Homo sapiens: one gene and its partners. The protein of the gene in region 1 interacts with the protein of each later gene in a pairwise test. Each region holds a gene or a part of one and is shown on either strand. Other genes may lie near its edges.

The links.
Region 2: the proteins of SET (region 1) and YWHAG interact in binary tests that used the Homo sapiens proteins (3 or more experiments, as listed by UniProt).
Region 3: the proteins of SET (region 1) and LMO3 interact in binary tests that used the Homo sapiens proteins (3 or more experiments, as listed by UniProt).
Region 4: the proteins of SET (region 1) and SGO2 interact in binary tests that used the Homo sapiens proteins (3 or more experiments, as listed by UniProt).
Region 5: the proteins of SET (region 1) and SPRED1 interact in binary tests that used the Homo sapiens proteins (3 or more experiments, as listed by UniProt).
Region 6: the proteins of SET (region 1) and MEOX2 interact in binary tests that used the Homo sapiens proteins (3 or more experiments, as listed by UniProt).
Region 7: the proteins of SET (region 1) and ZNF438 interact in binary tests that used the Homo sapiens proteins (3 or more experiments, as listed by UniProt).

Annotation. Positions count from the first base shown.
Region 1 is NC_000009.12:128,694,431-128,697,977, forward strand, and holds the end of SET (protein SET), read left to right. Parts: intron 1-210; coding exon 211-234; 3' UTR 235-1,966; downstream 1,967-3,547. UniProt on the Homo sapiens protein: Multitasking protein, involved in apoptosis, transcription, nucleosome assembly and histone chaperoning. Isoform 2 anti-apoptotic activity is mediated by inhibition of the GZMA-activated DNase, NME1.
Region 2 is NC_000007.14:76,347,783-76,352,491, reverse strand, and holds part of YWHAG (14-3-3 protein gamma), read left to right. Parts: intron 1-4,709. UniProt on the Homo sapiens protein: Adapter protein implicated in the regulation of a large spectrum of both general and specialized signaling pathways. Binds to a large number of partners, usually by recognition of a phosphoserine or phosphothreonine motif.
Region 3 is NC_000012.12:16,595,280-16,599,988, reverse strand, and holds part of LMO3 (LIM domain only protein 3), read left to right. Parts: intron 1-1,021; coding exon of another isoform or gene 1,022-1,094; exon of another isoform or gene 1,095-1,197; intron 1,198-4,709.
Region 4 is NC_000002.12:200,563,751-200,568,459, forward strand, and holds part of SGO2 (shugoshin 2), read left to right. Parts: intron 1-4,709. UniProt on the Homo sapiens protein: Cooperates with PPP2CA to protect centromeric cohesin from separase-mediated cleavage in oocytes specifically during meiosis I. Has a crucial role in protecting REC8 at centromeres from cleavage by separase.
Region 5 is NC_000015.10:38,346,441-38,351,149, reverse strand, and holds part of SPRED1 (sprouty-related, EVH1 domain-containing protein 1), read right to left. Parts: intron 1,729-4,709; coding exon 1,627-1,728; intron 137-1,626; coding exon 1-136. UniProt on the Homo sapiens protein: Tyrosine kinase substrate that inhibits growth-factor-mediated activation of MAP kinase. Negatively regulates hematopoiesis of bone marrow.
Region 6 is NC_000007.14:15,679,516-15,684,224, reverse strand, and holds part of MEOX2 (homeobox protein MOX-2), read left to right. Parts: intron 1-2,244; exon of another isoform or gene 2,245-4,709. UniProt on the Homo sapiens protein: Mesodermal transcription factor that plays a key role in somitogenesis and somitogenesis and limb muscle differentiation. Required during limb development for normal appendicular muscle formation and for the normal regulation of myogenic genes.
Region 7 is NC_000010.11:30,849,633-30,854,341, reverse strand, and holds part of ZNF438 (zinc finger protein 438), read left to right. Parts: intron 1-3,974; coding exon 3,975-4,709. UniProt on the Homo sapiens protein: Isoform 1 acts as a transcriptional repressor.

The DNA of each region.
Region 1 (3,547 bases):
TATTTGATCCGAAATATACCTGATTTGGTTAGAACTGAAGTTACTAATTAATCTGAAGCAACATCATCACGGGTGTTTCCTTCGATGCAGCTGACTTACAGGTTTAGAAACTGGAGTGCCCCCAGGGGCACTCGTGGGGTCCATTGTGGTCCATATGAAAGCAAGTCTCAGCATTAATCCTGAAGATTAACTGCCCACTTTTTCTTTCAGGAGGATGAAGGAGAAGATGACTAAATAGAACACTGATGGATTCCAACCTTCCTTTTTTTAAATTTTCTCCAGTCCCTGGGAGCAAGTTGCAGTCTTTTTTTTTTTTTTTTTTTTTTTTCCCTCTTGTGCTCAGTCGCCCTGTTCTTGAGGTCTCTTTTCTCTACTCCATGGTTCTCAATTTATTTGGGGGGAAATACCTTGAGCAGAATACAATGGGAAAAGAGTCTCTACCCCTTTCTGTTCGAAGTTCATTTTTATCCCTTCCTGTCTGAACAAAAACTGTATGGAATCAACACCACCGAGCTCTGTGGGAAAAAAGAAAAACCTGCTCCCTTCGCTCTGCTGGAAGCTGGAGGGTGCTAGGCCCCTGTGTAGTAGTGCATAGAATTCTAGCTTTTTTCCTCCTTTCTCTGTATATTGGGCTCAGAGAGTACACTGTGTCTCTATGTGAATATGGACAGTTAGCATTTACCAACATGTATCTGTCTACTTTCTCTTGTTTAAAAAAAGAAAAAAAAACTTAAAAAAATGGGGTTATAGAAGGTCAGCAAAGGGTGGGTTTGAGATGTTTGGGTGGGTTAAGTGGGCATTTTGACAACATGGCTTCTCCTTTGGCATGTTTAATTGTGATATTTGACAGACATCCTTGCAGTTTAAGATGACACTTTTAAAATAAATTCTCTCCTAATGATGACTTGAGCCCTGCCACTCAATGGGAGAATCAGCAGAACCTGTAGGATCTTATTTGGAATTGACATTCTCTATTGTAATTTTGTTCCTGTTTATTTTTAAATTTTCTTTTTGTTTCACTGGAAAGGAAAGATGATGCTCAGTTTTAAACGTTAAAAGTGTACAAGTTGCTTTGTTACAATAAAACTAAATGTGTACACAAAGGATTTGATGCTTTTCTCTCAGCATAGGTATGCTTACTATGACCTTCCAAGTTTGACTTGTATAACATCACTGTCAAACTTTGTCACCCTAACTTCGTATTTTTTGATACGCACTTTGCAGGATGACCTCAGGGCTATGTGGATTGAGTAATGGGATTTGAATCAATGTATTAATATCTCCATAGCTGGGAAACGTGGGTTCAATTTGCCATTGGTTTCTGAAAGTATTCACATCATTTGGGATACCAGATAGCTCAATACTCTCTGAGTACATTGTGCCCTTGATTTTTATCTCCAAGTGGCAGTTTTTAAAATTGGCCTTTTACCTGGATATAAATTAATTGTGCCTGCCACCACCATCCAACAGACCTGGTGCTCTAATGCCAAGTTATACACGGGACAGTTGCTGGCATGTCTTCATTGGCTATATAAAATGTGGCCAAGAAGATAGGCTCTCAGTAAGAAGTCTGATGGTGAGCAGTAACTGTCCCTGCTTTCTGGTATAAAGCTCTCAAATGTGACCATGTGAATCTGGGTGGGATAATGGACTCAGCTCTGTCTGCTCAATGCCATTGTGCAGAGAAGCACCCTAATGCATAAGCTTTTTAATGCTGTAAAATATAGTCGCTGAAATTAAATGCCACTTTTTCAGAGGTGAATTAATGGACAGTCTGGTGAACTTCAAAAGCTTTTTGATGTATAAAACTTGATAAATGGAACTATTCCATCAATAGGCAAAAGTGTAACAACCTATCTAGATGGATAGTATGTAATTTCTGCACAGGTCTCTGTTTAGTAAATACATCACTGTATACCGATCAGGAATCTTGCTCCAATAAAGGAACATAAAGATTTTTTTTGGACTGGGGTCATTCTCCTTGTTTTATAGAGAAATGTTACTTGCTATTGGATTCAGAAATTGTTCTAGTTTTTTGTCTTCACATCGTTAGTGACTGGGGAAGCGTGGGTTAGCGCTAATGGTATGACATTGGTTTAGAAAGCTTTGAGCTGGTCGGTGTCCGAGTAAAGGACAAATTCAAATATCTTACTTGGATACAGTTTCTGAGTAAACAGTTTCTGAGAGGGTGAGTATAGCATTTTCATTCTGAAGTCTCAAAAGGACTTTTCACTAGGAAGAAAATTGAGTACAGTGGGTCCTGTTATCTGCAGCTTCAGCTACATGTGGTCAACTACAATTCAGATACTTTGAGACTACATTCACACCTATACTGTATGTTAAATGTGTGAATGTATAGTTATAGTATACAATAGTCAAAATTATCCTATACCGTTAATCTCTTACTGTGCTTAATTTGGAAATTAAGTTTTATAGGCAGGTACAGGAAAAATTGTATGGGGCTTGATACTCCTGTGGTTTCAGGCAGCCACTGGGGCATCTTAGAATGTATCTCCTTTGGATAAGTGGGGCTACTGTAGTCATTTGAATCAATATCCACAAGCCTGTGATAACTTTCTCACAAACTTAACAGTGAAACTTAGCACAACTAGTGGTTTTACATGCTGGTGAGCGTCTAGGGCTGTCAGGTTATAGGTCACAATAACGTTTATTTTCGGGAATGTAAAAAATCGGGAGCCCTTTAAGGTAGTAGTAGTTCACTCAACTATTGTGATCTCCTGAGGTGCCACTAATATCTGCAAATCTTGTAAGAGAACTAGGCTGTGAGAAAACAAAATGGCAACCTTACTGTACCAAAAACTTCCATACACAGTAGCCAGCATGCCTTGTGTCCAACTGCAAGACAAGTTCTTGGGCTGGTCTTTAGTGTGTATTGGAATGGGCTCAGCTCCTTTTCTCAAGGACATTTGAAAATAGAAAATAGAAGTTGGGCACAGTGGCGCATACCTGTAATTGCAGTACTTTGGGAGGCCCAGGCTGAAGGATCGTGTAAGTCCAGGAGCTCTAGGCCAACCTGGATGACAGGGACATCCCAACACTACCATTAAAAAACAAACAAACAAAAAAACAGGTGTGGTGGCGCTAGGCTAATCCTAGCTACTTGAGAGGCTGGGGCAGGATTGCCTTAGCCCAGGAGTTTTGAGGCTGCACTGAGCTATGAGTTTGCCACCGTGCTTCAGCCTGGGCCACAGAGCAAGAAGACCCTGTTCAAAACAAGACAAGAGTAATAATGGCTGTTTAGGAAGGGGCTGTGTTCCCAAGCTGTGCTGTATTTGGTTTATGAGGGGTATTTAATAACTGCATGAATTAGGATGGAGGGCAGTAGCTTGCAAGATGTCCTTACATCTAGTTTCAAAACCTTAAGGAATATTCTGCTTTAGACCATCTCGGTTTTTGTTTCTCCAGTGATTTCATTTTATTTGTTTTTGAGACAGAGGTATCACTCTGTCGCCTAGGCTGGAGTGCAGTGGCACGATCTCAGCTCACTGCAACCTCCACTTAGCAGGTTCAAGCCATTCTTCTGCCT
Region 2 (4,709 bases), on another chromosome or scaffold:
GGTACCCAGCTTTCCTCTGAGCAGGGGTGTCCGAGTTGGGAGTATGACAGTGACAGCAGTGGCCAGCTGAACACGTAATGACAGTAGCTGAAGAGGAGTCACTGATCCACCCCCAACCTGCCGCAAGCTGAGTATGAAGAGCAGCTGCCGTGGGCAGGGAAGTGAGGAATGGCTAAGGGAGCGAGGGGAAGGCTTTAAAAAGCCAGGTTTCTTTTGAAGCCGTAGAGATGATTTACATTTCTTGAGCTGTCTGAAAGGAATTACTCATATGACTCTAAAGCTACCATATTTAAAAAACCCAGATCTGGGAAACAAAATGCCTATGGTGCTAGTTCTTTAAGAATGTAGAAATCAGCTTGAATTTTTGACTGTTTCTATACAGACTGCTTTTGTAGCAATCTAACATGAAGCAGTGAGCATGTCTTTGCAGTGGAGGTGCAGCATAGTGAGTAGCCATGCGGATAACCCCATACTCATTGGCAGTATGTTATAATGTGAGGGCCCGCCTGGCCTGGGTAGGCTAAAGAGCAGTGGTCCCCAACCTTTTTGGCACCAGGGACCCGTTTCATGGAAGACAGTTTTTCCATGGACTGGGTGGGGTGAGGGGTAAGGGGATGGTTTGGGGATGAATCAAGCACATTGCATTTATTGTGCACTTTATTATTGCTACATTGTAGTATGTAATGTAATAATTATACAACTCACCGTAATGTAGGATCAGTGGGAGCCCTGAGCTTGTTCTACAATTAGATGGTCCCGTCTGGGGGTGATGGGAGACAGTGACAGATCATCAGGCATTAGATTCTCATAAGGACCATGCAGCCTACATCCCTTTTGTGTGCAGTTCACAGTAGAGTTGGCACTCCTTTGAGAATCTAATGCCACCGCTGATCTGACAGGAGGCGGAGCTCAGGTGGTAATTCGAGCAGTGGGGAGTGACAGACTTCCTGCTCTGCAGCCAGGTTCGTGACAGGCCATGGACCCGTTGGGGACCCCTACTATAGAGAATAGATGTTATTATTTTCAAACCTTCACATTGGGTCTTGTATCTGTGTAATAGAGGTTAAGACTGGAAGTTATTTTTCCTACTAGGTTGAAAAGACCCTACTCAGAAAGGCGAGAAGAATGAACAGGAGAGGAGAATACGAACAACAGAAAAGGGCATTCCAAGGCGAGGAAAGCTAGTGGGGACAAGGGAGTAGGGAAGGAATATTCTAGAATATCTTGGATCTTGGAATGCCATGCCTATTTAAGGGAGTCTGTAGTCTTTGGAAGGCTGTGAACAATGGGATTGACTACTGAAGACAAAAATGTTGGTGGCCTTTCAGGATGCTAGAAATTTCGGGGGGAAATGACAAGAAGAATCACCATAATGATTCACATGCAGGGATATTTCCATCGTGTCTTTTTCTACAGTTTATATTCTTTTGCACCTTGCTTTTTTCACTTGACATCATTTCAATGATATTCTGTCATTATTTTCAGTAGCTGAATAATCCTGTGGATATATCATAATTTAATTATTTTTTTGCTTAGTATTCAGGCTGTTTCCAAATTTACATTGTAAATAATATTGATGTGTGGGTATAGATGGTCCCTGATTTCAGATGGTTTAACTTAACGATTTTTCTTTTCTCTTTTCTTTTTTTTGAGACAGTCTTGCTCTATTGCTCAGGGTGGAGTGCAGTGGCGCGATCTCAGCTTACTACCACCTCTGCCTCCTGAGTTCCAGCGATTCTCCTGCCTCAGCTTCCCAAGTAGCTGGGATTACAGGCATGTACCACCACGCCCGGCTAATTTTTGTATTTTTAGTAGAAATGGGGTTTCCCCATGTTGGCCAGGCTGGTCTCCAACTCCTGGCCTCAGGTGATGTGCCCGCCTTGGCCTCTGGAAGTGCTGGGGTTACAGGCATGAGCCACTGCGCCTGACCTTAACCTGACAATTTTTCAACTTTATGATGGTGCAAAAGCAGTAGGCATTCAGTAAGCTCCTCCACTTAGGATGGTCATGTCCCCATAAATGAGTTGTACATGGAGGAGTATCTGGTATCTTTCAGGCACAATTCGTACGTTAAGACAGACCCAAGAGGGGAATTGCTGGAAAACCAGCTAAGAATAATGTTTAAGGTCCTCACTAGTACAGGACCTTGAAAGTTTTGAAAGATGTGTTTGAATAGGTATTATGTATACATGTTTCAGAATTCAAAAGGCACCCATTGCCCTTTGTCCTCTAGGAAGGAAAATGAGGTTGAAGCAGGGGTAGGCTCGATGCCAGCTTATTTGAGGCAAGGGCCCATCTCCCTTATGCTTCTTTGGAGTGATTGCCTTTTTTTTCCCTTTGACTAATGGAAACTTTCAAACATACAAAATAAAGACAAATAGTACAGTAACCCCCGTACACCCAGCTTCACCATTTTTCAGCACATCGGTCTTTTATCTGTATTTTCTTACTCTTCTGGCCTCCTCGGGGATTATTTACCAATTTGGAAGATGGCTTTTTGGAGACAGTCTTGCTCTGTTGCCCAGGCTGGGGTACAGTGGTGCAATCTCAACTCACTGCAACCTCCCCCTCCTGGATTCAAGCAATTCTCCTACCTCAGCCTCCCCAGTAGCTGGGATTACAGGTGCCCACCACCACGCCTGGCTAATTTTTGCATTTTTAATAGAGACCAGGTTTCACCATGTTAGCCAGGCTGATCTCGAACTCCTGACCTCAAGTGATCCACCTGCAGGCATGTTTTTGTTTTTCATCGTTTGCTGGCCATGTAGAAAAAGACTTCAGATGTTTGGAACTTGATCTATTTATTGAGGAAGGGCAAACAATATGGCACAACTTCAAACAAAGCTATCATTAACAGATTAAATTTTTACAACTTACATAGAATGTATTTCTACCAACATTATTTGGAGCTGTGGCATGTAGATTCTCAAAAACACTTGCTGAGTGAATTACAACTACCTGTTACTTTCATTTTTTGGTACCCTGTTGCATTTTGATCTTGGTTTTCTCTTTTCATCATCTGGCTGTGTGTGTGTGTGTGTGTGTGTCTGTGTGTGTGTGTGTGTGTGTGTGTATTAATAAATGATGACCAAAACGCGTCTGGACCGCAATGGAAAACTTAACGGTACTTTTTGGTATTTTTTTTTTTTTTTTTGAGACAGAGTCTGCTCTGTCGCCCAGGCTGGAGTGCAGTGGCGCGATCTCAGCTCACTGCAAGCTCTGCCTCCCAGATTCACGCCATTCTGCCTCAGCCTCCCGAGTAGCTGGGACTACAGGCGCCCACCACCACGCCCGGCTAACTTTTTGTATTTTTAGTAGAGATGAGGTTTCACCGTGTTAGCCAGGATGGTCTCAATCTTCTGACCTCGTGATCCACCTACCTCGGCCTCCCAAAGTGCTGGGATTACAGGCATGAGCCACCACACCCGGCCGGGAAGACGAGATTTTTTAAATTACACACTTAGATGAAATATTGTAATATAGTTTGACGTTTACTGTCACCTTGGGAAGCATTTTTATGTACTTTTCCCATTTAATTTCACAACAGTTTTATAAAGTGATAATCTTCTGATTTTAAAGGTGGAAATGTTTAATTTGCCTTAAAATTTTTTTTTTCAAAGTCTAAGGCTCATGGTTTGTAATCCCAGCACTTTGGGAGGCTGGCTGACTCACGCCTGTATTCCCAGCACTCTGGGAGGTGGAGGCGGGCGGGTCACCTGAGGTCAGGAGTTTGAGACCAGCCTGGCCAACATGGTGAAGCCCTGTCTCTACAGAAAATACAAAAATTAGGCCGGGCGCGGTGGCTCACACCTGTAATCCCAGCACTTTGGGAGGCTGAGGTGGGTGCATCACGAGGTTAGGAGATCAAGACCATCCTGGCAAACACGGTGAAACCCCGTCTCTACTAAAAATACAAAAAAATTAGTCGGGCGTGGTGGCGGTCACCTGTAGCCCCAGCTACTCGGGAGGCTGAGGCAGGAGAATGGCGTGAACCCGGGGTGGCGCAGCTTGCACTGCACTCCAGCCTGGGCAACAGAGTGAGACTGTCTCAAAAAAAAAAAAAAAAAAAATTAGCGGGCATGGTGGCGTGCGCCTATAGTCCCAGCTGCTTGGAGGCTGAGGCATGAGAATCACTAGAACCAGGGAGACAGGCTACAGTGAGCTGAGATTGTGCCACTGCACTCTAGCCTGGGCGACACGCTATCTCCAAAAAAAAAAAAAAAAAACGAAGTCTAAGGCTCTTGTTTTAAGTTTTTGTTTTTTCTAGAAAAGGGGTCATGGGTAAAGTGGATACCAGCTGTTGTTTCAATTGATCTCTTTCAATTAATTTTAGCATATGTTCCATTGCTTGCAGATGCATGGAAAATCCTTTTAAACTGCTGCATATTTAATAATTTTTCCATTGGTTAACCTTGAGGTGGTGGCGTGTCATCTAGGTTTAAATACAGAAGAACTCATTTCCTTTAGGACAGTTGAAAGATGTATTACTCAATACAAGTGTAACCCGGTTTCTTTTAGAAAACATTCGATCCCACGATTGCAGTGTGTTTTTTGAATGTCATTTAACAAAGGAGAGCTTGAGATTTTTAACATGAGGTAAGTGCTGTAGTTTTGCTGTTTGGAGTCTTAGAGATATTGCCAGGAGGCATGAGGGTACCACTCAGAACCGAATGGAAGCAGATACCTCACTCAAAAGAAACAGATCTGGG
Region 3 (4,709 bases), on another chromosome or scaffold:
TGACATTCTAAACGGGAATCTCAAAAATACAACTAAGCAATTGAACCGCCTCAGACTTGCCAGTAGTTTTATGGATAATAACAAAGTAAAGACCTCCATCATTATAGGAAAATGACAGCCACTCTCCAACCTGTAAACATCTGAATGCTTTCAGGACAAGGCAGGTGTTCTTGGTTATGGAGCTATGAAGCCTACTAAAGCTTGTTTTCCAGCATTAAGTACTCAACACAGAATTTCTGCTGAAGGAAAATTATTTTGCTTTTCAGGCAACTTTGTGACTTACTTCAGCTGCAAATTACTTATATTAATAAAGTAGGATCTATCAAATTAGAGAAATGATATATGGCATCATTGGGATTTTCATATTTAATACAATTTATCATTTTTCTGGTCTGACATTAAGCGATTTATTTGGAATTTTTTCCCTTATGACAAAATTTATCAATCAATGGTAACTCCTTTAGTACCTTGGTCATTTGATGAGGTGTTTTCTAGGGAATTTGGTCGTTCTTAGTATATAATTCAGCTATTTTCAGTCAGATCCAATCTTTAGATATAAAAATATATCATTTGATTAATGGTAGTTACAAGAGGGTGAAAGCGGTACTGTTTATCAGATTCTACTCCTTCTCGCTCTTAGGACGGCCTCATCTGACAGCCTCCTGACTAATTATGGCCACTTGTTACTACTTCTCTGTGTTCCAAGTGCGTAAAACACATGCAAGGTGCCAACAATGAGAAGTCACTCTCTCCAGCCAGGATTTCCCTCATTGTGTTGGCACAACGAATCAAAATTAATGTACAATGTTCATTTTTTTAGAACTCTCCGGTCTTTGAACTTTCCTCTTTGAAATAAAAATTTCTCTTCTGCCCATTGTGAATTAGAGCCTCATTTCCACATAAAGCATTTGTATTTGCTTTTAGTGATTTAATACTGCTTTTTAGTTTTGCTTTATCTGTACTAACCAATAGTCATAGCTTTTTGACTCCTTTTGACTTTTACATTTGTTTGTAATTTCAGTATCTCAAGTGGATTTATGTTACCATTTCAAATAAGGAGTTTATATAGCCCGGGCAATGTTAAGGTGTTTTAATAAACCAAAGGACAAAAATTAAGTAAACTTGAAAGAATGTCAACTGAAATATCTGGGGTTTTTGAAAACAAAAATAAAAATTTGCCAAGGAAATACCTATATTGTGAGTATAACATGCTTCTTAGCTGTCAACATAGCATCGAGCAAAGACAGTAATCTTAGATTTGTTTTGTTTTCTTTTTCCTTGTGGTAGTAAAAATATATTTGATAGTCTCAAGTGTTTTGCTAAAACGCATTTATCAAAAATAGTTTTCATATCAGAAGTTTTTGTATCTCTATAAGAGTGTATGTGGCTTTTTGTAGAATAACTTTCAGTTACCTCCTGATAGGCTCAAACTTTTAATGGTGGTTAACTTATTAAAAGTATATAATATTCTTTCAAATATAAACCCTGGTCCTGATTGCCAATATATTCATTTCTCAGAGTACGATTTCCGCTTAAATTGGTCATTACCACATTAATGGCCAGTTGTTATGTTAACAGCCTAACGGTTGTTAACATTTCAAACTAAGTTGTTAACAGCAATCTTGTCCCTTATTTAAACTGAAAGTTTGTTGTATATAATGTGACTTATTTGGCAACTTCATCAACACTTAAAATTGCAGAAGTGAAGTGGAGAATTGGTGTGTGTAAAACACTGTGTTACGTGTTATAGATTATGCCGCAGATGTGGTATTTAGTTTTATGTGGAAAGCATGTGTCTCAGTGAAATTGTGTAGATGTTCAACTGCATATGTCTCTGATTGGCAAATTAAAATAGTCTGATTCTGTATGGTAAATCAACAAATATAGTCAAGCAGATTTTATTTACAAATTAATTTCTTTGATTAGATACAAATAGTTGTTCAAAAATGTTTATTAAATGCTTACTGTGTGAGAGGTATGATTTCAGGCAATGGGTGAAATTAGCTAAAGGAAAAAGGAAGGTACACCTAAAGTTGCCACTATCTAATTGTTTATTTAATTACATAGAATCTGTAATATAATCAGTGAACAAGTAATATTCTGTGGTTATTTTCCTGAGCTTTAAAAGTAATTTTTCTCATTTTCCTCCAAATTCAGCATACTTCCATTTTGTATTTTATATAACCAATGTTTAATCACTTAAGTTCTATTTTAAAAGTTGTTTTATTTTTGGCCCTTTGATATTATGTAATTTCTCTGAGGCACCAAACTGAACATAAATAACTTACATATTTATATTTCATGTCTAAATTATTAAGAACATAAGTAAGAATAAGGAAAGTAATAAAATAGTAATTTGCCTGTCCACATATATTGTTGGTTACAAGTATTGTCCTGGGCCAGATAATTTTTTACATACAGTGAAAAGTAAAATATTTTTGCCAATTACATTTAGCTTCTTAATACACTTCTCCCTCCATAAACAGAAAGAAAGAAACACTCCTAATTATGAGCAATGAGACTTAAAGATCTGTGTTTTACTTGTGTTACTTTGAGTAGTGATAATGATGATGTGATTTATAAGTTCTTTGAATGATGATTTGAGATATTAAATAATATGAAAATATAATAATTTAGACTGTAAGATATTTTCTTAAGGGTTATAGAAACTATTATTATGGAAAATTTGATGTCTTTCCATTTTTTTTCTCCTTTATGGCACTAGTAGCTATATTTAAGAGAAAAAGAAAGAAAAATCTTCCATAGTTTGTACACTAAGTATCAAATCTTAACAGTGGAATTTTTCACTTTCCAGAACTGGACTGGCATATCATTCATTTAGCTGTGGAACATAAAATGTACATATCTGATGAGACAGAATTTGCCCATTTGTGGGATTGCTTTCCTCCTTTGGAAACTCATTAGCTAAAGAAAGAGAAGGACTGACTTTTTAAAACTTCCTCTAACATGTTTCTGACTGAAATTATGAAATCTACCCAGTCAATATTTATATGCCAGGCAGACCAAGAAATGTATCTGTTAAAAATCTATCCAATGCATTTATAATTATTTTTATTTTTTTGAAGAGTAACTTATGACAAATTAGATATAGAAACATCTTTGTACTTTAAGTTGGAGCTTAAAATTGATATTGTCTAAAGTAGATTAAAAATGACTGTGTAAAAATAGCAAAGTTGTAGTGATAATGTTTAAGGTACTCATCACTGCGATCTATCCGCCTTATTTCAGTTTGAAAAAATATGAATAAAGTAGCCAGCCAGTGCATAATCAGAGTCTTAGAATTAGGAATTCTACATGCTTTTATTTAATGTTTTGCAGCAAGCATTAAATAGAACTAGGAGAAATACCAAAATACTTTCTTTTTCAACTTGAAGGCAATAAAGGATGTCAGAATGTAACTGGAACTCAACTTCTGGGCAATTTTTTTGTTGTTCTTTCTTTGAACCTGCAACTTTTTGTGACGTACTTTAAGCATTAAGTCTATATAGGCTGTATGTATCTTGTATCTCTATGAATGATATCTTGCCAGAGTTTATTCAAAGCTGTTTGCTGTGGTATGTGCCATGGAAGCTGCTTATAGCTTTTCCTATATAAGAAGCTGTAAAATGTCTTATATAAAATTTAATGCAATTTGCTATTTTTATACGTGAGGATGATTTGTTTAAAATGAAACTACTGGGAAAGAGTGATGCTTCATGCTTCACCATAGTTGCTAATTAACTAAAATGATTTGAAGCTTGCTATGCTGACTACAAATTTTATAGGCTTTAATATAATAATATAATAACTCTAAAAGAGAAAATAAAAATAAATTGCCACATAGGGCATAAATCTAGCTGTAACTTTATCTCACGCTGATCAAACCTGGTGCTTCTAAATTTTTATGTAAGGTCAGCTTTATATTGGTACATAATTATAAGTGTAAAGGTAAATAGGAATATGTTGTTAATATTATTTTATCTGGCAATTTATAGCACAGATGCTTTTTTAATGTTGATACAATATTCATTCTTTTTTCTTTCATTGTCATCTTTTTAATAATCATTTGGAAGTATTTTTCCAGGAAAGCAATGTATTCTTATTATTTGAAAAACCACTTTTTACTGTTCTAAATTCTGAAAGCATAAACTTTTATATGAAATGGAACTCTACAAATAAGCTTTATTTCTATAAGCTTCATTTGAGCTTTTAAACACCATATTATTGTCATAATTTTTATGTTTGAATGTCTAAGTTAATTTTAGTATTATGAAATATTTTGACATGAGCATATTGAACTCCATATCTGTTACAAAAATACTGTTATATTCCTTAAAAATTATCTTATTTGCAGCTTTATAAAAAGTTACAATTTTAAGATCATTTTTCCCTTTATTGTAGAAGAAGCATTATTGAATTCTGTTTTAAATATTTTAGCGTTTATACTACCCTGAACCAATACAAATTAGGAGTGATAATTTTTTTGGATAATTCTTCAGAAGAGTGCCCCTCATTCTGGAAAATAGTAGGTGAATTCACATTAGACTTCCTGAGCAAAAACTGCCCCCAAACAACTTCTATTAAAAATATTTACTGCACATACAGAATTTCTTCTCATTGGTAAATTTATCTGCAATATCTTTCTATCTTTAATTCTATAATGCATTCATTTTCAGTAAATGAGTATTTACCAATAATATAATTATTTT
Region 4 (4,709 bases), on another chromosome or scaffold:
ATTCAGGGATTCAACTTCTTCCTGGTTTAGTCTTGGGAGTGTGTATGTGTCCAGGAATTTATCCATTTCTTCTAGATTTTCTAGTTTATTTGCATAGAGGTGTTTGTAGTATTCTCTGATGGTAGTTTGTATTTCTGTGGGATCGGTGGTGATATCCCCTTTATCATTTTTTATTGCATCTATTTGATTCTTCTCTCTTTTCTTCTTTATTAGTCTTGCTAGCGGTCTATCAATTTTGTTGATCTTTTCAAAAAAACCAGCTCCTGGATTAATTGATTTTTTGAAGGGTTTCTTTGTGTCTCTATCTCCTTCAGTTCTGCTCTGATCTTAGTTATTGCTTGCCTTTTGCTAGCTTTTGAATGTGTTTGCTCTTGCTTCTCTAGTTCTTTTAATTGTGATGTTAGGGTGTCAATTTTAGATCTTTCCTGCTTTCTCTTGTGGGCATTTAGTGCTGTAAATTTCCCTCTAGACACTGCTTTAAATGTGTCCCAGAGATTCTGGTATGTTGTGCCTTTGTTGTCATTGGTTTCATAGAACATCTTTATTTCTGCCTTCATTTCGTTATGTACCCAGTAGTCATTCAGGAACAGATTGTTCAGTTTCCATGTAGTTGAGCAGTTTTGAGTGAGTTTCTCAATCCTGAGTTCTAGTTTGATTGCACTGTGGTCTGAGAGACAGTTTGTTGTGATTTCTGTTCTTTTACATTTGCTGAGGAGTGCTTTACTTCCAACTGTGTGGTCAATTTTGGAATAAGTGTGATGTGGTGCTGAGAAAAATATATATTCTGTTGATTTGGAGTGGAGAGTTCTGTAGATGTCTATTAGGTCTGCTTGGTGCAGAGCTGAATTCAATTCCTGGATATCCTTGTTAATTTTCTGTCTCATGGATCTGTCTAATGTTGACAGTAGGGTGTTAAAGTCTCCCTTTATTATTGTGTGGGAGTCTAAGTCTCTTTGTAGGTCTCTAAGGACTTGCTTTATGAATCTGGGTGCTCCTGTATTGGTTGCATATATATTTAGGATGGTTAGCTCTTCTTGTTGAATTGATCCCTTTACCATTATGTAATGGCCTTCTTTGTCTCTTTTGATCTTTGTTGGTTTAAAGTCTGTTTTATCAGAGACTAGGATTGCAACCCCTGCCTTTTTTTGTTTTCCATTTGCTTGGTAGATCTTCCTCCATCCCTTTATTTTGAGCCTATGTGTGTCGCTGCACATGAGATGGGTCTCCTGAATACAGCACACTGATGGGTCTTGACTCTTTATCCAATTTGCCAGTCTGTGTCTTTTAACCGGAGCATTTAGCCCATTTACATTTAAGGTTAATATTGTTATTTGTGAATTTGATCCTGTCATTATGATGTTTGCTGGTTATTTTACTTGTTAGTTGATGCAGTTTCTTCCTAGCATCAGTGGTCTTTACAATTTGGCATGTTTTTGCAGTGGCTGGTACCAGTTGTTCCTTTCAATGTTTAGCGCTTCCTTCAGGATCTCTTTTAGGGCAGTCCTGGTGGTGACAAAATCGCTCAGTATTTGCTTGTCTGTAAAGGATTTTATTTCTCCTTCACTTATGAAGCTTAGTTTGGCTGGATATGAAATTCTGGGTTGAAAATTCTTTTCTTTAAGAATGTTGAATATTGGCCCCCACTCTCTTCTGGCTTGTAGAGTTTCTGCTGAGAGTTCTGCTGTTAGTCTAATGGGCTTCCCTTTGTGAGTAACCCAACCTTTCTCTCTGGCTGCCCTTAACATTTTTTCCTTCATTTCAACTTTGGTGAATCTGACAATTATGTGTCTTGGAGTTGCTCTTCTCAAGGAGTATCTTTGTGGCATTCTCTGTATTTCCTAAATTTGAATGTTGGCCTGCCTTGCTAGGCTGGGGAAGTTTTCCTGGATAATATCCGGAAGAGTGTTTTCCAACTTGGTTCCATTCTCCCCGTCACTTTCAGGTACACCAGTCAGACGTAGATTTGGTCTTTTCACATAGTCCCATATTTCTTGGAGGCTTTATTCATTTCTTTATACTCTTTTTTTCTCTAAACTTCTCTTCTTGCTTCATTTCATTCATTTGATCTTCAATCACTGATACCCTTTCTTCCAGTTGATCAAATCAGCTACTGAAGCTTGTGCATGCATCACATAGTTCTCATGCCATGGTTTTCAGCTCCATCAGGTCATTTAAGGTCTTCTCTATGCTGTTTATTCTAGTTAGCCATTTGTCTAATCTGTTTTCAAGGGTTTTAGCTTCTTTGCGATGGGTTTGAACATCCTCCTTTAGCTCGGAGAAGTTTGTTATTACAGATCGTCTAAAACCTTCTTCTCTCCACTCATCAAAGTCATTCTCCATTCAGCTTTGTTCCGTGGCTGGCAAGGAGCTGCATTCCTTTTGAGGGGAAGAGGTGCTCTAATTTTTAGAATTTTCAGCTTTCTGCTCTGGTTTCTCCCCATCTTTGTGGTTTTATCTGCCTTTGGTGTTTGACGATGGTGACGTACAGATGGGGTTTTGGTGTGGATGTCCTTTCTCTTTGTTAGTTTTCCTTCTTACAGTCAGGACTCTCAGCTGCAAGTCTGTTGGAGTATGCTGGAGGTCCACTCCAGACCCTGTTTGCCTGGGTATCACCAGTGGAGGCTGCAGAACAGCAAATATTGCAGAATGGCAAATGTTGCTGTCTGATCGTTCCTCTGGAAGCTTCATCTCAGAGGGGCACTCGGCCATATGAGGTGTCAGTCGGTCCCTACTGGGAGGTGTCTCCCAGTTAGGCTACTCAGGGGTCAGGGACCCACTTGAGGCGATAGTCTGTCCATTCTCAGATCTCAAACCCTGGGCTGGGGGAACGACTATTCTCTTCAAAGCTGTCAGACAGGGACGTTTAAGTCTGCAGAAATTTCTGCTGCCTTTTGTTCAGCTATGCCCTCCGCCAGAGGTGGAGTCTACAGAGGCAGTCAGGCCTCCTTGAGCCGCAGGGTGCTCCACCGGCTTCAAGCTTCCTAGCCGCTTTGTTTACCTACTCAAGCCTCAGCAATGGCGGGCACCCGTCCCCCCAGCCTGGCTGCTGCCTTGCAGTTCAACCTCAGACTGCTGTGCTAGCAAGAGCGAGGCTCCGTGGGCGTGGGACCCTCTGAGCCAGGCGCCGGATATAATCTCCTGGTGTGCCATTTGCTAAGACTGTTGGAAAAGCACAGTATTAGGGTGGGAGTGACCCAATTTTCCAGGTGCTGTGTGTCAAGGCTTCCCTTGGCTAGGAAAGGGAATTCCCTGACCCCTTGCACTTCCCAGGTGAGGCGATGCCTTGCAGTGCTTCAGTTCACACTCCGTGGGCTGCACCCACTGTCCTGTACCAACTCTCCAACAAGCCCCACTGAGATGAACCTGGTACCTCAGTTGGAAATGCAGAAATCACCCGTCTTCTGCATCGTTCATGCTGGGTGCTATAGACTGGAGCTGTTCCTATTTGGTCATCTTGGAACCTCTCTTATTCTTTTAATGCCTGTAGCATCTGTAGTGAGAACCTTTCTTTCCTGATTTTTGTAATTTGTATGTTTAATCAAACTAGCTAGAGGTGTGTCAGTTTTATTGTTCATTTAACAAACTCAGCTTTTGGCTTCATTGATTTTATTTTTCTCAATTTTATGTTTTATATTTCATTGGTGTCTATTTTTAAATTATTTCCTTTCTTGTATTTACTTTTAAAAACATAGAGATATATAATTCACTTAACATAAAATTTCTTATCACATGAAATTCACCCTTTTAAAGTATACAGTGCAGTGGTTTTAGTATATTCACAAAGCTTTGAATCTTCACCCTGTTCATTTCTAAAATATTTCAATCTCTAAAAGGGAATCTCATATCTATAAGCAGTCTCCATTCTCCACCCCCCTAGCCCCTAACAACTGCTAATCTACTTTCTGTCTAAATGGATTTGGCCATTTTGGATATTTCATATGAATGGAATCATAAAATATGTGGCCTTTTGTGTCTGGCTTTTTTCACTTAGCATATTGTTTTCAAGGTTCATTCATGTTGTAGCACATATGAGCATTTCATTACTTTTTATGGAGAGACAATAATTCTGTTGTGTGGATATACCATGTTTTGTTTATCCATTCATCAATCAATGGACATTTGTATTGTTTCCACTTTTTGGCTATTATGAATAATGCTGCAATAAACATTCATGTACAAATTTTTGTGTGGACATACATTTTCAGTTCTCTTGAATATATGCCTAGCAGTGGAATTGCTGGGTCATCTGGTAACTCCGTGTTTAACTTTTGGAGAAACTGCCAAATTGTTTTTCCAAGCTTCTGCACCATTTTACATTCCCGCCAGCACAGTATTTTGACACTGATTTCTCCATCTCCTCACCAACACTTGTTAATAATTATCTATTCTTGTGAGTATAGCCATCTAGGAGTATGAAGTAGTATTGCATCATGGTTTTTATTTGTAGTTCCCTATTAATTAATGATGTCAAGTATATTTTTATGTACTTATTGGCCATTTGCGTATCAAGATCATTCTCTTTTGATTATCTTTTCCATGTGAGTTTAAATCATGTTTTTCTATTGCTTCATATATTGGATAATATTAGATTGCACCTGGGTATTGTGTATCCCTTGTTGGAGAAAATGTAGATTCAGTTATGCTCACCCAAAGAGTTTTGATGTTTCAATTTTAATAGGCACTAACCTTGTCTGAACCCAAAATAAGCA
Region 5 (4,709 bases), on another chromosome or scaffold:
CTCTTTCCAAGTCATTTTTCCACATGTCAGGATGTCTGTAGTCTGCATAGCGACGTATTAAGATATCTCGAGGGTTTATTCTGACAATCTCATCCTCATCTTGAAAGCTGACATGTCTGATTGATTTCAAAGGGACCTAAAAAAGAAACAGATAAAAACTGCAATGAGGGCTATGATGGTTAATTTTACGTGTCACCTTGGTGGGGCCAGTGTCCAGATATTTGTTGAAATATTATTCTGGACATTTCTATGATATGTTTTTGGGATGAGATCAACATTTCAGTTGGTGGACTATGAGGAAAGCACAGTACCTTCTGTGGTATAGGCGGACCTCATAAAATCAGTTGAAGGCTTTACTAGAACTAAGACTGAGCTCCCCCTGAGCAAGAAGAAATTCTGCCAGCAGGGTGCCTTTGGACTCAGACTACAACTATTTCTTGGGTCTCCAGACAGCCTACCCTGTTTTGGATCTGTACCTCTACTATTGCATGAGCCACTTACCCACACTTGATTGAAAGACGTTATTTAGATGAGATTTGGGACTTAAGAGTTGATGCTGGAATGGGTTATGTCTTTGGGGCTGTTAGGATAAGGATGAATGTATTTTGCAAGTGAGAAGGGCATGATTTTGGGAACAAAGGACAAAATGTTATGGTCTGACTTATGTCCTCTTCAAATTCATATGCTGAAGCCCTAACCTCCAGTAATGCGACTGTATTTGGATATAGAGCCTTTTAAGAGGTGACTAAGTTAAAATGTGGCCCTTAAGAGAGACTTTAATCCAATCTGACTGTTTTCTTTATGAGGAAATTTGGACACACAGAGAAAGACACCAGGGATGTACGGGCAGAGGAAAGAGCATGTGAGGGCAAAGTGAGGAAAGACCATGTGAGGGCAGCTACCTGCAAGCCAAGAAGAAAGGCCTCAGAAGAAACCAAACCTACCAACAACCTTGATCTTGAACTTCTAAGAATTGTGAGAAAATAAATTTCTGTTGTTGAAGCTACCCAGTCTGTAATATTTTGTTGTGGGAGTCCTAGCAAATTAATACAAAGACACACATGTGTGTAGCTTGGGTACACAAAAAGTCTCTGAACAATGACGTAAAATACCCCTACTTCCACAACCCTTCTGGGAAGGTTGGTTCTTTGAGGCCAAAGAACAAAATTAAGTCTTTTGACCCCTTACATCATCCATAAATGCAGGCTTCTAAGTAGACAAATTTGTATCTTTAGCTCCAGTCCCTGGACACAGTGACTAGTCTACTACAAGTAAGCATCTGACTCAGTTTGGGGCAAACTTCTATTTCCTAGATACATGGAATTAGGGCTAAGAAAATTCTAGGTCTGAGCTAAAGGTGGGGTGACAGATACAGTTTATTTAATTAACAATATATAATTCCTTTTGGTCCTATCTAATAAATGCAGCTCTGGCAATCTTTTAGACTCAAATGAGAAGTTTGCAGAGTTTTTAACTAACAGCGTTTAAGCACATAGGCAGCAAATTTATACAATGAAAAATTTTCTAGTACAATTCAACTATATGGAGAATTAGAAAGACTGGAAAACTTTACCTATCTATTAATTAGTTAAATTCCATATCACAAGATAAACTAACATTACTTACCCTATTTTGGGACTTTAGGCTTCCACATTCCTTGGATATTTGCCGCTGTACGTATTCCATACTTCTGCTCTGAATGTCCAAGCCTGGCTGACCAAATGTTATCTAAAATACAAACAATTTCTACTTAAATGACACAAGAATTTTACTTTTAATGAAACTGTACAGTGTATGTTCCAAAACCTCATAATTTATTAGCAGTAAAGTTTTTCAAAAACGGTTTTGAGAATAAAAATAGAATCATTTCCCCCCACCTAAAACACAAACAAAAACCATAGGTCTTTTCTTACATATTTAAACTTTAACAAGTAATGAATACATAGTCAAAAAAGTACAAACAACCCAAATATTCATCAACTAATGAACGGATAAACAAAATGTAGTAAATCCATAGAGTGGAATATTATTCAACCACAAAGAGAAATAAAGTAGTTACACATGTCACAATAATGGTTGCCAGGGGCTGGGAATAGGGAAGGAGGGGCAATGACTGATAATCAGTGTGGGTTTTTTGGGAAGTGATATGGAATTTGATACTGCTGATGGCTGCACAATCTTGTGAATATAATAAAAACCACCAAATTACATACTTTTTTAAAGGATGATTTTGTGGTAGGTGAATTATATAGCAATAAAAAAATAGGAATCTTTAGTGTCCTGATACATTTACAAGTGTTTCGAATTGCAAAGCCCATTTCAGACCTAAATTATAGCTAGAATATATCAATGTTTAATTTTTAAAATTTTATGGTGAAAAATTCTAATATACATAAAAGGAGAGAATAATGTTATGAATCACCATGGGTCTATTATCTAGCTTCACTTATCATCAACATTTTGGCAATCTTGTTTACTTCTTATTTTTCCAGATAATTTTGAGCCAACTCCTACTGTTACATACTTAATAAACACTATAACCCTGAAAATAAATAGTAATACATGCAGATAGCAAAATTTTCAAATAGTATAAAAGCACATGAAGTAAAACTCTTCCTTCCATCTTAGACCTTTCAGACCCAGTTTTAAAAGTTAACTATCATAAAAAAAATTTTTTAGTGCATTCCTCCAAAAATTTTTACACACACAGACACACACACACACACACACACAGATCTTTAAAATAGGACCCTTTGTACTGTGCCCTTGGTCTCTGCATTTAATGATACAATATGGAGGCCATTCTATGTTTATAAGTAGAATCTGTAAGAATTTAGAAATTAACAAGAGGAAATAACTATGGATTAAATGGTCTGGGAAGGCATGAAAGGAAATGCGACTTGAAGTAAACACAGAATAAGCTAGATATTTGGTCAAGTGAAAAAAAGAAAAACAGAAGAACATTACACAAAAGGAAGCAGAGAGAACAATTTTTTTTCCTGATAGAACACAATGACCTCAACTAGTATATTAAATATACATTTCTAAGAACTATTCTAAAGAGTAAAAATGTCAATTTTCTCACCACTGTCTCAGAAAAAAGTCACACACACCACTTAAACACATACACACTTTGAAAACTACCTGAGTCAACAGGGTCTATGAATATTAGTTCTCTCACACAATCTCTAAGTGAAAAGACAAATAAATGGACAATATTGACCTTTTCACACTTACTAAAAACAGATGTGATAAGATACACCCCAATTAATTTCTGCTTTTTAATACCCTCAAAATTTGGTACTTTTGCTATAATCTTCAGGAAAATTTATCAGCTGAAAAAGTCATAAGAGATGCTTCTTCAAAGCTGGTCACAATTAAAATTTTAAAAGGATTCCATTTATAATAGAACAACAAAAATGGTACAAAGAAATAATCCTATAAAATATGTATTATCTTTTCACAAAGAAAATACAAAGTTTTATGTAAAGATACAGAAGAAGAGCTAAACAGAGGTATATATCATATTCACGAATAAGATGATAAATTATCCCCTAAACTAACACACACATTCAGCGCAATTCAAATATAAACCACAAAAGGATTCTTCATCAGATTTGACAAGCTGATTCTAAATATTTTAAAAGGGCAAACAGCCAAATTGAAAAAAAAAAAAAAAAAAAAAAAAGATCCAAGCGGGAAAACAAAGTTAGGCACTTTCTCTACAAATATTAAGTTATTATAGAGCTACAGCATTTCTACAGTAAAGATGACAATGTGACACTAATTTAGATTAGAGACATCAGAAACAGACTCAAACATATATAGAGAATTGATGTGTCAGATATGGTACTGCATATCAGTGCGGGGAAAGGCTCCAATAAACAGTGCGGGGACAATTAGTAACCTATGTGGAAAAAATAAAATTTGGTCCCTACCATAGAAGAGAAATCAAATTAAAGTGGATTAAAGACAAAACTTTAAAACTTTTAGATTAGGAAGAAAATCTTTAAGATGAGGATAGGGAAGAGTCTGTAAAAATAATGAGAAATGATAAATTCAACTGCATTAAAATTTATAATGTCTGCTCACCAAAACACCACAAAGAGTGAAAAATAATCACCAACTAGGAGATACTAGCCACAAATAAAACTCAGAAAGATCTGAATCCAGAATATACAGGGAAGTAACACAGAACATTTGATTACCTAGTAACAAGGCCATATGAAAGCATGCAGTTAAAATCCATTTGTAAAGGAACAATCACAGTTATTTCCGAAGTCTTTCAAATACTCAATACATATCCCCTGTAGGTGGTACACATCAATCCTAAAGTCCAATTTGTCCCAGAACCTTCTGTAGCACATCAATGTAAAAAGTCCACTCCTGAACACTCCAAAGAAACTCATGCACATGAATAGCTGCGGACAAGAAAGTTTGTACTAGCAGTATGCCTGTAACAATAAAAACCTGAAAACAACTGAAATATCCAATTGGGAGAATAAAAAGAAACAAGTTTTAGAACTATCAAGGAAAGCATGAGAATGTTAGACAAATACAATTCCAGGTAATAGTTACCTCTAGGATGAAGGCAAAGGTATAGATTGGGGGTGTTCCTTTTTTAAGTTGTTTCGTGGTTTCTCAAGTATTCAGTGAATACATTCTTTTTTATGTATTAAACATGTCATAAATCTTTGAAATATGCTGTC
Region 6 (4,709 bases), on another chromosome or scaffold:
TCCCATAAGCTCTTACGGTTCATTTTATTTCTTGCAATGAGAAACCTACATGATAGATTGTTCTTCATGCTTCCTGAACTGAGCCATTGCCCTTAAGTTTCTCAGGGCAAACAATTTTCATACAAGCACATGTTATTTTGTTTGGGGAAAACTGAGAAAACGGAATTCAATAACTGATTCCCTTAATTTATTTTAATAATTTTTTTAAAAAATGGAATAATTTAACAAAACTAATTTATCTCTCCCCCCCAACTTAGTGGGAAATAACCATTTAACAAAATTAAATTCATTTCTACATTTTGAAGCTGATAATGAGGGTACTGGAAAAACAAGCAAATATAAGTGTTTGTGTCAGCTACATAAATTATTAACAGATTAAAACTTCAGTGGAAAGTACAATTAGTCATCACCAAGGATAAAAATACTGGGGATTTAGAATGAGCTTTTCTTTCCTTTGATATGTTGAAGAAATATTGACTAAAAGGAAAATCACAATAGTTTCTGTTTAAATCTATGTACACTTATTGAAAATAAAATTTTATTTGCCAATTTCAGCTGAAGGTATATTTGTCAGATATTGAGATAGATTTAAATTAAAGATATCTTTCTCGTGTAACAATTGCATTAGGTGTTCCATAAATTATCTTCAAAGATATTTTATTTCATAGACATCTTGATCTAGCACAAACTAAAACAATATTGAAAATGATTATGATCCTGGTATGCTATTAATACGTATATCTCTCATTGCTTATAGCACATTTTAGTATTTCAATATTTCTAAAATATAAAATTGAAGTGATTTCGGAACTCCTGAAATTTAAAATTGTATTAGATAAAAATGTCATCCTATATAGTGAGATCATTTGTATTTTGTTAGGTAGTTTATAATTACTTTGCATTTATGGTTGAGAGAAAATTCAGTACATAAATCCAGGGTAAAGTCAGGACCAAAATTCTGTATCCCTGCATCTAATACTTAGACTGTATGTGTATGTGCTAATTCTAATTACCGTGTTAAATTCTAATAGAATTTTAAGCACCAGAAAGTATTGAAAAACAGCTTAAATATTTATAAACCTTACAATTTTATTCATAGTAACGATTTAAAACTATAATACGTAAGCTTCTCTAGCATATATTTTATGCACTTTCCCTCCACAAATGCACATGGACACACACATATGCAAACTCTAGCAGCTTCATGTTTTGGAAGCAAATATTTATGGACTTTAGGCTTCCTTTATGTAAGTTTATTGACAATTGAAAATAACCAAATTTAATAGAAAAACACACCATTATATTTTATATGTGTTAAACATTTTTGTAACTTTGAACCTGCTACGCTTTCCAGCATTATTAGCAAAGCCAACATCTGCCACGTCTTCAAAGGGACTCTTAAAAATCAAAACTTTACAACTGCTGAAAAAAATCACTACAAAGCAGGTGATTCTGAAAAATGTCTATAAATAGTGTGAATTGCTTGGCTTCAATTACATTTGGTTGCTCTTTGAGCAATCTAGTAGTAGGAATAAACTGCCCAGTTTTAGTTAAAATAACTAAAATTAATTCATTGATCGAACTTTAGCTTTTGTGCATGGTTATACAGTGTACATATCTAGATATTTTCTATTCAAATTTATGATACATATTTTATAAAAAATAGAAATTACATCAAAAAAGAAAAGAGCGATTTGGGGAGGTAGACTTTACTAGGTTTTGAATCATATTAGATTCTTGTAAAATTACAAATATTTTATTTATAGCTACTATGTCATAAAACCTTTGCTGTCAAATTATGTCTGTCTATATGCTTGACTATGCAGAATGACTAGCAAATATTACATTTAATAAGTTGGAACTTAAACTCAGAGTAATACCTTATCAACCTCATTCAGTATGATATTGTAATATTTCCAAGATATTTCAATCATTGTGTTTTCTGAAAGGAATAAATTAGTGTTATTATTCATTTCTGTGTTACTGGATTGTGGCTTTTCAGCATTTGCTTTAGAATTTAAAAAATAATATACTGGATCTTGAAGATTAAAGTGAAGTATTGAACAAATCAAATGGAGTACAAAAAAAAACTTCCATTCTTTATCTTGGACTGGTAGACTAATTTTAGGTGTGAACATTTAAAAATGGTAATCTGACATAAAAAATTCTAAGTATCATTGACCTACATGAGGGCTCTAAAATGTGATCTAAAATAATCACACTCAAGTTAAAAGCAACAATTCCTTTAGAATTAAAATGCTTTATTGTTGAACATTAGCAATGAATGGAAGGAAGAATGCAAATAAAAGTAGGAATAGTTTCCAATTCTGTGTAAATTTCTTCATTTATAGTTCATTTTAAAAGAAAAATCATAAATGCAAGGCATGGTATTGCACAAACTTTCACCGGGCTTAGAAATCCAGAACTTAGTATTTAAAGTTTTAATCTTTGTTTATGGTAATTATCAATAGAAACCTTTACAATGACATCTTATAAGCTGATCTTTACTAATAAACTGAAAAAACAGTACTTCAGTCATTACCCCATTCTCCCTCTGTGTTTCAAAACATAGACCGTTCATTATAACTCTGGAATTTAAGTTGTAATATTTATAATAAAATCTAAACATCCTAAGAACTTAATTTTAAGCAAAAATGAAATATCAGAAAATGTCAATCCTTTCTCTTAGATTCTGAGAAATTTGGGAGGTGAATTCCATATGTAATGAAATAATTACATTTTTTTTTGCACTTAAGAAATGTAAATCTATAGATGAATTAATAGCTGAATTATGTAAAACATCACCATATATAAGCCCACTACATGTACTTAGCCTGATAATGCTGCCTTGCTTGCGAAATTTTATTCATTTAGTGTTTTTATAATGGCAGCTTGACACACACAACCTAATATGAAGGTTTTTTAGATTTTAATTTCAAATGAGAAAAACCAATATAATACAGCAATATATTTTAGTTTTGAACTGTATTCACCTCAGGAATTTATTTCTAAATTTTCAGAGCAAATCTCTTTTCCAAGCACTGCTATGAGGGCTGCAAATATCTTTGAGCGATAAATACTAAGGATGCAGAAATATTAGAAAATAAATTACAGGTAGGAATTTCTTAAATAATATCTGTTGAATTAATAGTTGTGGATTATTTATCTCACCCAAATTTTCTTTATTTTTCTCACTTTTTTTTTTGATAAATGAAACATTTTGTGCAGGAAGATATATAAGCATTTCCCCCCTTGATTGTAATAATAAAAAGAGAAGGCTTAATTCTCAACTGGCCAGTTACATTGTATTTCCTGGCTTATAGTATTGGTAAATGATTTCAGTGGTTAAAATCAAAAGCAAAAAAATAAAATAAAACACAAACTAAGGCCAAAGTCCACAGATTAAAAATTGAAGTAGATGTGATTTATTTCCTATTTAGCATATTTAAGAAACAAGACACATTTTGTAGTCACAATTTGTTTCTACATATCATGTGCTTTAGATGTTAATATGGTTTACTGACATACATGTTTTGTAAAGATTGTAAATATAATGAGGCACTAACATTTTGCCTACTTTCCTTAGGATGCTCTCATGACTATTTCTTTTACTAGCGTGTTGAACTGAACCCCCAAGTAGAAAAGGAGTAACGGTGTAAAGTAAAGTTAGTTGCAAAACTCTCTACATTACTCCTAAATCACAGTCATCAGTGAGATTCAAAATCCCATTGGAGAAAACCTCGCAGAATATTTTATGTGTTTTAATGTAGTAAAACTTAGAATGGTCAAGAACATATAGGGCTCAGCCTACAATTTGCGTTAGAGGCAGAATTAATCTAAATCTGATGCCCATTTCTCTAACAGTTCTTCCCGTTTTACTTACATTATAAAAATATTGAATTTTTTAAAGAATGTTGTACTAGATAGTATTTTATGATACAAAATAATCAATAATGTATCTATTGATCCATTTGTGCTCATCTCAGATGTTGTTTTTATGTTTCAGAATAAGTATTTTCATTTAAAATCTCTTGACATTATTTATTACCAAATTAACAGAAAGTTACATGGTAAGTGTATGATCGAATGGGTTATTAATTTTCATGGGTCATGAGTGGGTTTTTAATTTTCCTCTATATTTGAAATTTTTGATATATAATTTCCGGAATAATAAGTAGCTCATTATTCCTGAAGCTTTCATTTATAATGTTACTTTGTGTACAGAAATATAATATTTCTAAATTTATATATGTTACTCACTACTAATTGTGCACTGTATTTTTAAATATTGGTTTTCACAGTGTTATGAAAATAATTTACATTTTTTTGGTTTCTTACATCACCATATGCACAAGAATGATCAGGTAGAATCCGTACTGTATCTATACATTTTTGGAAAGGGTTTGTATGAAAGATAGAAAAACCCTTTCAAAAATAATCCCTTGTTTTATCAATAGAATTAGAAATTAATAAACTGGATCATTAACTTGTATGATAATATTGTTATTTTATTTTTAAAATTTCCATTTATTTAAATGTTTAATAATTCTAAAATGTTTGTGTACCTTGATGACAATTCTTATGTCCTTACAATGTGTACTTTTATTGCAAATATAACATATTTTTACTAGGTAGTAACTCAGTGGTAAAAACTTTAGGGTACTGATTATAGCTCTAAATTCAAAAGCTGTTGCTCTTCAAAATTTTGT
Region 7 (4,709 bases), on another chromosome or scaffold:
ATACTTTATCTATTAATTTTTATTTTTTGAGATGGAGTCTCGCTCTGTCACCCAGGCTGCAGTGCAGTGGCGCTATTTCGGCTCACTGCAAACTCCCGGGTTCACGCCATTCTCCTTCCTCAGCCTCCCGAGTAGCTGGGACTACAGGCGCCCACCACCACGCCCAGCTAATTTTTTTGTATTTTTAGTAGAGACGGGGTTTCACCATGTTAGCCAGGATGGTCTCGATCTGCTGACCTTGTCATCCACCTGTCTCGGCCTCCCAAAGTGCTGGGATTACAGGCGTGAGCCACCGTGCCCGGCCTATATGTGATACTTTATTCATTTATTCATTCATTAATTCATTGGAGATGTAGTCTCACTGTGTTGCCCAGGCTGGAGTACAGTGGCATGATCTCAGCTCACTGCAACCTCCACCTCCCAGGTTTAAGCAGTTCCCCTGCCTCAGCCTCCCAAGTAGCTGGGATTACAGGCACTTGCCACCACACTCGGCTAATTTTTGTATTTTTAGTAGAAACGGTTTCACCATGTTGACCAGGCTGGTCTCAAACTCCTGACCTCAAGTGATCTGCCTGCCTTAGCCTCCCAAAGTGCTGGGATTACAGGCATATGCCACCATGCCTGGCCATAAATGGAGCATATGTTCTAGAGAAAATGAAACAGGAAGAGGGAGCAGGGAGTTCACAATGGGATATAGTTTTAAATAAGGTCATCAGAGGAGATGCTCGTTGAGAAGAAGCCATTTGTGCAAAACCTTGAAGGAAACGATGCAGCAAGTACTGGGGATTTACTGAGGGAAGAGTGTCTTGGGTGGGCGGGAGTAGCCAATGCTCCTCCCAGCCAGGAGCCTCCTCTCAGGAGGTGCATGCCCAGAACAGCAAAGAGGCCACCATGGCTGGAGTGGAGCAAGTAGAGGAAATATGTCAAAGAGGCTCCTGAGAACCTTTTTAAGCATGAGGCCTTTTAAGCCATTGCAGGGATTTTGGCTTTACTCTGAGATGAAGAGCCATTGGACAGATTTGAGATGAGGAAGTCATAGATCTTGTGCTATGATGTGTTATTGTCACATATTCTTTCAAGAGGGTGAATTACTAAGCCTTTGTTCTAGCTCATCTTGCGGTAAATATTTTCTGCCCAGTTAGGAGGAAGAACTAGTGATAAATGACCCAATATTTTCTCTTCTCTTCCTTCCACACCCCAGATCTGTTGTGTAAATGCAAAGAACATTATTACTGTTAATGTAATTATTTATTAAGCCACATCTCTAAGTAACCAAAAGCCATCAATAATTTTAGGCTTTCTGCAAAGTCTCTCAATCCTGATTTAAAGTGTTTATTTATGACTTATTTTGGTACTTCTTCCAAAAAAAAAAAGATGAGAAGGTGAGGTTTAAAATGAAAAACATTTAAATTTAAAGGCTATGAAAATAAAACTTAAAAATTAAAATTATGTAGGAAGAAGTAGCAATCCATACAGATGACTATTGTCAAGTGATTTACCACTCAATTTACCCATAAGCGGAATTCACGGTAACCAAACTCAGAAGGAAAACAACAAATAACATAATTATCTTTGTCTGATTTTTCCAGACAATAGCACTCACTAGTCCTTGTACTTCTTACTCTCGTGCAGGCTATCCTGTGAACTTATGTTTCATAATGTCCTTTTTCTTTGCAAAACAATTACTTTCTAAAAATAAACTGGTCAATATAAATTTCACCTTATTTCTACTAGGTTGCTTGTTTATTTAGGCGGTGTCATTTCTGCTGAAAGAATCAACTTCCTGCTAAAATTGTTAATTCACTCACTGTAGGCATTAAAATCAAGGTTGACGGGCCGGGCGCGGTGGCTCATGCCTGTAATCCCAGCACTTTGGGAGGCCGAGGCGGGCAGATCACCTGAGGTCGGGAGTTCGAGACCAGCCTGACCAACATGGAGAAACCCTGTCTCTACTAAAAATACAAAATTAGCTGGGTGTGGTGGCACATGCCTGTAATCCCAGTTACTTGGGAGGTTGAGGCAGGAGAATCACTTGAACCCAGGAGGCAGAGGTTGCTGTGAGCCGAGATCGCACCATTGCACTCACCTAAGCAATAAGAGCAAAACTCCGTCTCAAAAAAAAAAAAGAAAAAAGAAAATCAAGGTTGATGTTACATTTTCTTTTCTTTTTTTTTTGAGACGGAGTCTCGCTCAGACTGTTGCCCAGGCTGGAGTATAGTGGTGCGATCTCGGCTCACTACAACCTCTGCCTCCAGGGTTCAAGTGATTCTCCTGCCTCAGCCTCGCCAGTAGCTGAGATTACAGGCATCTGCCACCATGCCTGGCTAATTTTTTTTTTGTATTTTTAGTAGAGACAGAGTTTCATCACGTGGCCAGGTTGGTTTCAAGCTCCTGACCTCAAGTGATCCGCCCATCTCAGCCTCCCAAAGTGCTAGGATTATAGACGTGAGCCCCCGTGCCCAGCTGATTTTACATTTTCAATTGTCTGTTTCACTAGATTGTCTGCTACCTACCTTGTATCCTCTAACAGATAGTGTTCAGTCCCCTACCCCCAACTCTAAAATCTAAAAAACTCTGAAAACAGAAGTTTATGAAAAGTTGTTACAAACTCATTCAGAAGCAAAAACTTGAACTGAAATAAAGACAATTTAAAAATCTTCATTTGTCCAACTTGCGAATATTTGCATGTTTTGCTACAGAAGTGGTAATAGGTTCAATTATGGGTGCCCTGCAGATTCCGCTGGGAGTTATGTAACATTTAGTACACGCATCTTACTACTTTTCCAAAATTTGAAAATATAAATTCCAAACCACATCTTCCTCCAAAAATTTCAGAAAAGGGATTGTGGACTTGGCAATAGCCAATCCTGGGATAATGATTGGAATAATGTAGGTGCCTAGTAAATGTGAATTGAAGTTTGATTAATATGAGATACTTAGAAATTAGAAACATTTCTGCAGCCAGGTCTTGTGACCTTGAGACCTCAGAGAATAAAATAGATAATTCAGTCTTTAGAAGCAGGACACCAAAATGTTTCCTTAATTGTTCTCTTAAGGTAGTAGTAATTGATCTTAGGTCAGGCTAATAAATCCAGAAAGAATGAAGTGTTACCCTATCAGTCAAAATTGTTCCTATTAGTATCCTAGAAGGTGCTTTTTATGCCATTCACATATTTTGCATGTTGTCTCTGTATCTGTACTTATCACTTTGTATCTTTCTGTTTTTTGTTCAACATTTTTTAAAGGTGTCACATCAGCTTTTTTAATACTGGTGATTTAATTGCAAAAGCACACATAAACAGTTTGAAAGGTGTGAGAAGAAATTCGTAAGTCACATGGGGAAACAGCAACAAAGCTAGCATTCAGTCTGGAATGCATCCACTGTGCAAAACAAATTCAACTGCCAGTGGGTCAAATGGTGTATCCTGAGATTGAGTGAAAAATGAGTTTGATACAAGAAGCGCTTGTTTTATACAAAGGATACAGTGGGAAATATCAAGATGAGATGAATATAGGCTGTACCCTCACAAAGCTGAAGCTTAATAGGGAAAGCAGAACATGTATATAAAATAATAAACTACATAGCAGAACATACCAGACATCATGTGAAGATGAGTGGGGATAGGTTAAATGGAGAGGATGGACTTGCAGAATACATGGATGAGAAGGACGGAATTTTCGCTGTCAAGCAGTGTTGACTAGTAGAGATACACATAAACACATAAATTATTATGGAAAATGGTAAATAACATAATAGGAGCTAAGGAACCATAGATAAGTATAGAAATCCTTGGGGAAGGTAGGCAGGAATTGATCTTCAAGCTGGTCTTGAGGGACACAAGATTTTGCCCAGAAGGCTTGGAGGTAGGTCAAGGAATCTGTTCTGGGCAGAGTAAATAAGATGCTTGTTGTTTGAAGTATCACTAACAGAACAGTTACATACAGTAACTCTTTATATTTTATTGTCATTGCAGGTGAATCAAACATCCCTTCTGGAACAATACAGAGTAGGAAAGGTTTGCAGAATAAGAGTCAGTTTAGGACCATTGCACCAAAAATTGTGCCCAAAGTCCTAACGTCCAGAATGCTGCCATGTCATTCACCATCACGCTCTGATCAGGTGAATCTGGGACCCTCCATCAACTCCAAGCTGCTGGGGATGTCCACCCAGAACTATGCCCTGATGCAGGTTGCTGGCCAGGAGGGGACATTTTCTCTTGTTGCTCTGCCACATGTTGCCTCAGCTCAGCCAATTCAGAAACCCAGAATGTCCCTACCTGAAAACCTGAAACTTCCTATTCCTAGATATCAACCCCCTAGAAATAGCAAAGCATCAAGAAAGAAACCCATCCTGATCTTTCCTAAGAGTGGCTGTAGCAAAGCTCCTGCCCAAACCCAAATGTGTCCTCAGATGTCCCCTTCCCCACCTCACCACCCTGAACTCCTGTACAAACCCAGTCCATTTGAGGAAGTACCATCACTAGAGCAAGCCCCAGCCAGCATTAGCACAGCTGCGCTGACCAATGGAAGTGACCATGGGGACTTGAGACCACCAGTGACCAACACCCATGGCAGTCTGAACCCTCCTGCTACCCCAGCATCATCCACACCAGAGGAGCCTGCCAAGCAGGACCTCACAGCTCTTTCAGGGAAAGCACACTTTGTAAGCAAGATAACATCTAGTAAACCTTCTGCTGTTGCCAGTGAAA